2 linked regions of the Homo sapiens genome follow. The protein of the gene in region 2 purifies or fractionates together with the protein of the main gene of each other region. This does not show direct contact. Each region holds a gene or a part of one and is shown on either strand. Other genes may lie near its edges.

Region 1 (3,399 bases), on a different chromosome or scaffold from region 2:
CCTGACCTCAGGTGATCTGCCTGCTTTGGCCTCCCAAAGTGCTGGGATTACATGCATGAGCCACTGCACCTGGCCTTACTGCTTTCATAGGTATTATTATTATTGCTGTTAAATATATCTGATAAATAATAAAAATCATTTTCAGATTTGCCAATATTCTTTTAGTTATTGCAATCTGTAGTGTCTTTTTAAGAAAATGTAAAAACTGTCTTAATTGTTATTCTTTTTAATATTCCAACTAAAAGCAGTGGTAATAGGTTCTTCTTCATTAACAACATATCATATACCAGGAATATGAATATTATTTTAATCTCTAAACAGAAACCTGCCAAACCACTTATATCTGTTCCTTGCAAACCATTGAAGCCCTCAGATGAAATGATTGAGACTACGAGTGATTTGGGGAAGACAGAGCTTTTCTGCTCTATTAATTGTTTCTCTGCATACAGTAAAGCTAAGATGGAATCTTCTTCAGGTAATGTTTGTTTAGCAATTGTAGGGGTTTAGTAATTATTAATAAATAATATTATTTGACTTTAATTTATAACCTTGATTCATTTTCAAATTAAACCGACTTTTAAAAGTCAAAACAATCTAAACTTGTTGCAAAGAACTGTTTTTCAGTATTTTTGTATAAAAGGAAGGCTACTTTACCACCAGAGATTTAATATTTGTAGGCCAAGCACGGTGGCTCATGCCTGTATTCCCAGCACTTTGGGAGGCCAAAGTGGGCAGATCGCCTGAGGTCAGGAGTTTGAGACCAGCCTGGGCAACATGTTGAAACCCCGTCTCTACTAAAAATACAAAAAAAATTAGCTGGGCGTGTTGGTGGGTCCCTGTAGTCCCAGCTACTTAGGAGGCTGAGACAGGAGAATCATTTGAACCTGGGTGGTGGAGGTTGCAGTGAGCCGAGATCGCACCATTGCACTCCAGTCTGGGTGACAGAGTGAGACTCCATCTCAAAAATAATAATAATAAAAATTAAAAGATACATGTCTTTTTTTAGATTATTTAGTAAATGAATATATGTATGTTTACATCAATATATATTGAGCACCTACTGCAAAACATGGTACATAGGAGGCACTTGGTCAATATAGAGTTTAATACATTTACAAGACTGCTTTTATTAGAATATAGAATGTTTTACTTAGCCCTGTTTTGTAAAAACAAGTTTTCATTACATTTTTCACATGAAATAGAAGTGATTGTAAATGCTTTAAGACTCAATAATAAAAAAGCACAAATAATCTGAGCCAACTAAGTATTCCATCAAAAAGCCTCATGTAGGACCAGTGGTGCTATTTACATAGACCATAGAGTGACTAATGCCTCTGGGATTTGTAAGTCATACAAACTGGCTTGTTACAGAAATTTCTGCAATAGTGGCTTGGGCACCAACCTAGCGCTCCATTGATGTTAAGGTTTATGAATCCTGGAAGAGTTTGAAATAGATGCCCATTAGGAGATTCAATCAGAATCTCTTTTCTTCATGAGTAATTTCACAGAAAAATTTGCTCATAATTTTAAACAAATTCTTTAAAAGGACTGGGAAATTGTGTACAAAGGTAAAAGACATAAAATGTTGGAGAAGTGTAAATTTTCAGTGTAATGTTGTAATTATAAATACGATACTAAAGAACCTGGCTATTCCTAAGCCCTAATAAAAATTACTTCAGTACCTACCAATTCCTTAAGCTATTAGATGCTTGCATTATTTCTTTAAACAGTATTACTAAACAGTACTTTCTGATGATTGATTTTGCCTTGTTTATAAGAAATCTTTTTATTGTTGTCAGTAAGTGTTGTTTCTGTGGTGCATGATACTTCAACAGAGCTTCTTTCTCCAAAGAAAGATACGACTCCAGTTATAAGCAATATAGTGTCATTGGCAGACACCGATGTTGCCTTGCCCATCATGAACACTGATGTCTTACAAGGTAAAAGTTGATGTTAAGATATTTGACATAAATATTGTTTTGTCATACTTGATAAATCTGTCTATATGCTAAATTTTCTTTTTGTTTCTTATATGAAATAAGCAAATATAGTTTATGATGCTATTTTATAGGTTATAGTATATAAGATCTTGAATTTATGCTCTATTTTAACAGATACAGTTTCTTCAGTAACAGCAACAGCAGATGTCATTGTGGATGTAAGTTTTAACTTTTTTTACCACTGTCTTTTTTTAATAAGCAGATTTTTGTTGTTGTTGTTGTTGAGACAGAGTCTCGCTCTGCCACCCAAGCTGGAGTGCAGTGGCGTGATCTCAGCTCACTGCAACCTTTGCCTCCTGGGTTCAAGCGATTCTCCTGCCTCAGCCTCCTGAGTAGCTGGGATTACCAGCGCCTGCTACCATGCCCAGTTAATTTTTGTATTTTTAGTAGAGAAGGGGTTTCACCATGTTGGCCAACCTGGTCTCGAACTGCTGGCCTCAGGTGATCCGCCCACCTTGGCCTCCCAAAGTGCTGGGATTACAGGCATGAGCCACCACACCTGGCCCAGATTTTTTATATATATATATAATATATACTATAATATATAAAAATATAAATATATAATATAAATATATTATAATATATTGTATATAATATAAATATATTATAATGTATATTTATTATATATTATATTTATATATTTAATATATATTTTATGTATTATGTATTCATATATGGGGTGTGTGTGTATGTTTGTAGATTGTTTAAACAGAAGTATTTTTTTCCTCTGGGTTCTTCTTTTAAAAAAATACTACACAATTTGAGTCATCTGAGCAATAAAAATTATTTTTATGACAATTACATACCAAAAGGTCCTTCAAACATTTAATGCTGAATCTAGATTGCAAATAAATAAGTTATACGTAATTGTTAACGTTTCCCCCTAGTGGAGCTCATACTGTAACTCAGCCATTTATTTTACTATGTTATTAGAGTAGATATATTTGATATTTTAATTAATTTTTGAAAACTGTTAAATGTTCTTTTCTCATTTTCTCCCAAAGCTTTCTAAGAGTTCACCTAGTGAACCCAGTAATGCTGTTGCTAGTAGTAGTACGGAACAGCCAAGCGTTTCACCATCTTCATCAGTATTCAGTCAGCATGCAATTGGTTCCAGTACAGAAGTACAAAAAGACAATATGAAATCTATGAAAATAAGTGATGAACTATGTCACCCAAAATGTACATCCAAAGTACAAAAAGTTAAAGGTAAATCACGAAGTATTAAAAAATCTTGTTGTGCAGATTTTGAGTGTTTGGAAAACAGTAAAAAAGATGTGGCATTCTGTTATTCATGCCAGTTGTTCTGCCAAAAATATTTTAGCTGTGGAAGAGAGTCATTTGCAACCCACGGAACTTCTAATTGGAAAAAAACCCTGGAAAAATTCAGAAAGCATGA
Region 2 (6,094 bases):
TGTCTAGAGAGAGCACTGGCTGGGGTACATGCAAGCTGCTACATCAGTCACAGCCCCCATAACCTTGCCATACTTCTCTCTGCATTGGTGGCACAAGGAAGATTTTCATATAAAGTAGAGAAGACTCAAGATGAGGCAGACCCTTTATAGGTTCACAGCAGCTTTGTTCAAAATTGCCACAAACTGGCAACAACCAAGTATCTATCAACAAGAGAACAGATAAACACATGGTCAATATTCATACAATAAATACTACCTTGGAAAAAAAAGAAATGAACTACTGATACACACAATGGCACAGATGAATATCACAGACATTGTGTAGGGCAAAAAGAAGCCAAACACAAGAGTGCATACTGTGTAACTGCAGTTATATGAAATTCAGGAACCAGCAACACTAATCTATGATATTAGAAATCAGAACAAGGTTTGCTGCTTCTGTGGGGTGGAGGTGACTAGAAAGAGACGTGAGGAAAAGTTCTGTGACTGAAATATTTTATGTCTTGTTTGGGATGTGGGTTTGTCAAAACTGGCCAGCTATTAGCATAGGATTCAGCTGAGAAGTGCTGTGAGGATAAAAGAGGCCACTGATCTCCAGGGTCATCATTTACCTATCAAATATTGATTAACTTGAATTATGAATTACCTCAAAGGACTTCTAGTATTTTACCAAGGGTTCTGCCACCCTTATGGGAGTCAATGCCTTATTTGTGTAATTTAGTTACCTAATTAATCCAACAGTTATTTATTAATTGCTCATAATATACCAAATAGGAACACAGCCATAAATAAGACAAAAAAATTCCTTGTCTTGATGGAGTTTACATTAGAGTGGGGAACATGCCCAATTAACAAGGAAACACATATACTATATAGTGTCAGGGAGTGCTAAGTGCCATGAAGAAGGATAAAGCAGGGTCAGAAGACAGGGAGTGACCACAGGCTGTTTTAGATCAGGTGGCCATCATTCTGGAGAGTATGAAAAGAAACTGGAATGAGCTGAGAAAAGAAGCAGTGGCAGTGTCTGAAGGAAGAGTGTTCAGGCAGAGGGAAGAGCAAGGACGATGGTAAGCAAGAGGACGGCCATAGAATATGAGGGCACCAGACCAAATCACAAGCCCTGGTGGAGAGTTGAATGTTATTCACAGTGTGAGGGGAAGCCATTGGAGGGTGTTAAGCAGGAGAGTAATATCATCCAACTGACTGACATTTTAAGAATGGGAAAAAGAAGGCAGTTAAGGGGTCTGCTCAAGATTCTTATGGGAAAGTCAGAAGAATAAGATCCATATTTTTTTCTTAAAATGTTAATATCCTTCACACATCTATATTTGAAACACCTTCTGATTCAAGCTCTGTCCAGGACCAGATCACATATGTCTGGATTCTAAACACTGATTTTTATTAACAAGTTTGTTTTAAGATAATAAGTTTATAAAATGAGAGGTAGAAAACATCTCTGTATGTCTAAAATTTTTCATAATAAAGTACTGGAGAAAAAAAGGTGAGATAGTGATTTGCATCCTTTATCAGGCAAAATTCATCAGCAACTAAACATGAATGTTCTGATTCTCAAGACCTTTGCAAAATAAAGGCTCTGATTTTTTTTTTTCAACTAAATGTAGAACATTTCTTTCAACCCCCAAATCCACCTTTGCAGCCCAAGTCAGTCCACGTTGCACTGTTTCTGCAGCATGTCAGAGCCTCTGGCTTCTTTCCTCTCTCCCCCTTCCCCCAATTAATCTCTGAAACCTACATAAGAATGGAATAAAATGCAAATTCAAGGAGAAGGATGCAGTTTTCAGAGAAGGCCTCATCCTCCTCCTACCCTATAATGGAAATTCCCTTATGGTTAAACAACAAAAATGGAAATATTAAAACCCTCAGCTGAAAACAAACACTTAAGCACCTATTCTCCTTTCCAGAGAATCTGTTTCCCTCAATCATTATTTTTCCACTCTTTTGAGAGCCTTCTAGGCTGAAAGTTGTTTCATCTCACCCATCTTGGGTCTCTCCTAGGTCTCATTTCTGCCTTCACCAGGCTTGAAGTTCTATATCCCTAGGCTATCAGAACTTTGACTCTGACCAGGCTCAATTCTAGACTTTACTGGGGAATGGGGAGAAGCTAAAAGCTGGGGGTGGAAGAGAAGGGGAAACAGAGGGAACATTCCAGAGACAGTAGTGTCCCTGAAGGGGAATTAGGCTGGCAAAATGGGGACCAGAAAGCCACCTCTATTCCTCACAAGGGACACCTAACTCAAGCACAGCCTGCTAAAGCACTTTATTCTCCAGACTCAAATTGCCTTAACCTGTAAGCAAACGCTTCCCCAGCCATTTATCCGCAAGCGCATTTGCCCCACCTGCAGCAATGAAAGAAGCACTGTTTTTGCAAGCCGGGCTGCTACCCAGACTGCGAGGAGACATTCTGTGCAGAATTCAGCCACTGGTGGAGAAAAAGAAGTTTTTCTTTGCAGGCCTTGCTGCCTAATACAACTATATCAACAATTTCTCCCGCTGTGTAAGCCCCATCTGAAAATCTTTCCCTTTTATCTAGGATGCAAAAATGTAATGTTATCCTCCATATTCTGGTTTAAAGAACTACACCAGGAAAGACATTTTATGATAGGCTAGGGCATCATTTACCTCTAATTCAAGCATGCATGTACCTAGAAAACTAACAAAGGGGTAAGTTATGCCATGCCATGACTTCTCTTCCCAGATTTCTATCCTGAAATCTTAACAAAATTCGATTTTAAAAACCTCAAGGTTTGTATTCTTCACGAGTACATGGATACCTTGAGTTCTACCTAGAGGCCTCTAGTTTCTGACAGAGCTAACTTGGAAAGGGCTGCTTGCCAGGGTACAAGGATGTTGCAGCTTCCAGGTGACTCCCTCATGCCCAGAAGCAAGGCAGTTCAACAGACGCAGTGCAATACAATTGTCCCTTTTCAGGACTTTGCAATCTCCATGGGGGAGCCCATCGTGCCCGCCACTCTACACCCTGGGGGTGAACATGCCCTGCAAAGCAGATTCGGCGTGAGGAGACTCTGGAAAGTCTACAGGCGGTGGGAAACTGTTTCGGGATCTCTCATTTTCAGCACAGCCGGTCGCTTATTCAGCAGAAAACCCACGGCCCCATCTTCACACCAAATTACAGTACTCTCCCGTCTCTTCCACTGAAATTGCCACTCGCATCCCTGATGCGTGACCCCTGCTCACCTCAAGTTCCTATGAGAGTTTCTTTACCGGTTCCAAACAAACTGCCCAGATTCTGGAAAGGGAGAGAAAGCCCCTCCCCCTTTCCACTTTCACTTAATAATTAAGTGTTTGAAGTTTTGTGGATCCTTAAGGTCGCTGTGCTCACCTCATCAGCGTCGGACCGCCGAGAAGCGCCAAGCCCGCTGCTATGTGCAGGACGCCCACGGTCCCCCGGCGTCTCGCGCGTTCGCGGGGCTGGAAGGGGCGGGAAGGGGCGGGCCGGGGCAGAGACAGGGGCCCGCGCCCATCGCCGCGCCGGGAGCCTGGCGTGGAGGCGGCGGGACGGCGGCGCAGGCCTCTGAGGTGTGCGCGGGGCGCCGGGCGCCTCTGGCCGGGGCACTGGCTGAGCCACGCCTGCCCGCCCCTCCCTGGCGCCGCCCGCGTGGCGCGCCTCGACCCTGCTCTCCCGCGAGGGCCGGGAGGGCTCCGGGACCTTGCAGACTCCACGCGCCTCACGGCTCCTCCAGCTCCTCGGATCTTTCTCCTTGCGTCGCCGCCGAGTCCCCTGGGGCGGCCCCGCCTCCGGCCGTCTCCTCAGAGACCTTCCCTGGGGGGCGCCTTCCCCTCAGCGCCCCTTCCCGGGCCTCGAGCCAGCGGCTGCCGCAGGAGCTGGCCCCGGGGCGAGGAGCTTCAGATTCAGGTCCCTAGCCGGCCTCGGTAAGGAGACTGGAAGGATTCTCCGCGAATGCTCATTTTTATTTCTGGAGTGGCGTCGGAGTTACCAATTAGTTTTCTTATTTTATACTCTCTGGAGTTGCCAAATTCTTTACGTTGAGCTTTTGCTTATTTTATAATCAGAAAGACAAGTACGTTTCTTTTTCCAAGAATGCTTACAGGAGGCCACAAACAAGATGTTCGCACCCAGCCCACTGTCTTCCGCTTAAAAATATGTGTGAGATGTTGTGTTTAAGACACCCTCAAGGAGAAACATAGAGGGGAGACCTGGAAATGGTCTTGGGAATCCACTTAGACTTTCCATATTATATTTGTTTCATTTATTTTAAAATCTCAGACCTATTTATGTGCATTAGGACATTCCACATTTTTACAACTGCGCAGAGGAAATCTTTGGTTGTAGAGGACGGGAAGAGAGAGGCCAGGTCCGCAGACCCCACTGTGACAAGACAGTGGCTACATTCTTAACTGTTTTACACATTGTGATACCCAAAGACTTCTTTTCACAGGATTCTACTGAGGGGGAAAACAAGAGGAAGAAAGAAAGATAGACAAGGTTTTCCTCAAGGCAGTAAGCAAAAAGCTGGTTTCTCAGAAGAAAGAATTATGTCTGAGATTTTACCCAGGACTCTCCAGATCTCTCATTCTACACAGAAGGACCCTTTCATTTGGAACGTGCAGAAACTGAGGAGGACCATCTCTCTCCTCCATGGGGGCTGCCTGAGTTAAAAAGGCCTGGGTCCATCTTTTTTCCGTAGGAGAGCTGACTTCAGAGTCTAGAGCCAAATCTTCACTTCTGTGGCTCTAGATTGAGGATTTGCCCTTCTGATCTCTGTGGGGCTTTTTTTTTTTAACCTGGGAATTCCCCTGGGCTCTTCGGCTGTTATTCTCATCAACCCCTCTCTATATTCTGCAAGACATTGAAATCTTTCTCCCAGCTTGGCCCCCACCTCCAATCCCAGTATTCTCTTTTCTGAGATTGGAGTATTTCCAACCCCTCAGTTGCCAGGCACTGAAGGTTTTCATCTTCCAGGCCTGCCATGTTTACCTCTGAGATGTTTCTGGCAACTGTCCACTTCTCTGCATTCTCACACTGCTGCTCTTGATAAGCTTCGATTATCTGGGGCTGAATTGTTTCAATAATTTCCTAACTGATTTTCTTGCCTCCTATCTGTCCCCACCACCAACATAGACTTAAGAATGTCACTCTCTTGACAAAACAAGCCAACATCCTCTATCCTCTGTCCCACTCCCAAACCTGCAGTAACTTTCCTGTGCAATTGTAATACAGTGTAAACTTTCATAAGGATGGGGAGTGGCCAAGATGGCTGACCAGAAGCAGGTAATGTACATGGCTCTCACGGAGAGGAACAGAAGGGACGAGTAGATACAACACCTTCAACTGAAACATCCGGGTACTCGCATTGGGATTAATCAAGGAAACAACCTGACCCACAGAGAACAAGGAAAAGCAAGACAGGACAACAGCCCACCTGGGAGCAACAGGGAACCAGGGGATCTTCCCCTGCCCAGGGAAGTGGTAAGTGAATGAGCGACCCCGGAAACCATGCTTCTCCCACAGATCTTTGCAACCCTCCTGTCAGGAGATCTCCTTGTGAATCCACTCCACTAGCAGCAGGGCCTTCAGTCTTCAGTCTGGCAGACAGGGCTACATGGAGTCTCAGCAAAGCAGCCACTCAGGCATGCGTGGAGACCCTGGAGGCTTAGATACTTGGGCGTTCTGGCAAAAGTAGCTGCATCTCCCACAAAGAGGGAGTTTAGACTCCCATTCATACCCCTAAGAAAGAGGCTGAATCCAGAGGGCTGAGCAGCAACAGCCCGCAGGGCCCACTTCCACAACACCTCACACAAGACAGGACCCACTGGCTTGGAATTCCACCCAGCTACCAGTAGCAACATAGCACCTGCCTAAGTAGGAGCTCCCAGGGGAGGGGTAGGCCAACATCTTTGCTGTTCAGGAGCTTTAGCTGTTCCAGCCTTCAGGGTTTGGAGAGTCTGAGACGACCTGGGGCGGTAAGGATGCCCCAGCACAGCACAGCTGCTCTACCAAAATGTGGCCAGACTGCTGCTTTAAGTGGGTGCCCAATCCCATTCCTACTCACTGGGTGTGACCTCCCAACCAGGGCCTCCAGCCACCCTGCCT

The links. The genes of interacting proteins can lie anywhere in the genome.
Region 1: the proteins of GPR156 (region 2) and ZMYM1 purify together in Homo sapiens (affinity purification with mass spectrometry; 2 studies listed by BioGRID and IntAct, with this or other methods). This does not show direct contact.

The regions. Positions count from the first base shown.
Region 1 is NC_000001.11:35,109,973-35,113,371, forward strand, and holds part of ZMYM1 (zinc finger MYM-type protein 1), read left to right. Parts: intron 1-321; coding exon 322-475; intron 476-1,799; coding exon 1,800-1,940; intron 1,941-2,114; coding exon 2,115-2,158; intron 2,159-3,004; coding exon 3,005-3,399.
Region 2 is NC_000003.12:120,281,668-120,287,761, forward strand, and holds the start of GPR156 (probable G-protein coupled receptor 156), read right to left. Parts: upstream 3,556-6,094; 5' UTR 3,362-3,555; exon of another isoform or gene 3,217-3,361; intron 1-3,216. UniProt on the Homo sapiens protein: Orphan G-protein coupled receptor involved in the regulation of hair cell orientation in mechanosensory organs of the inner ear.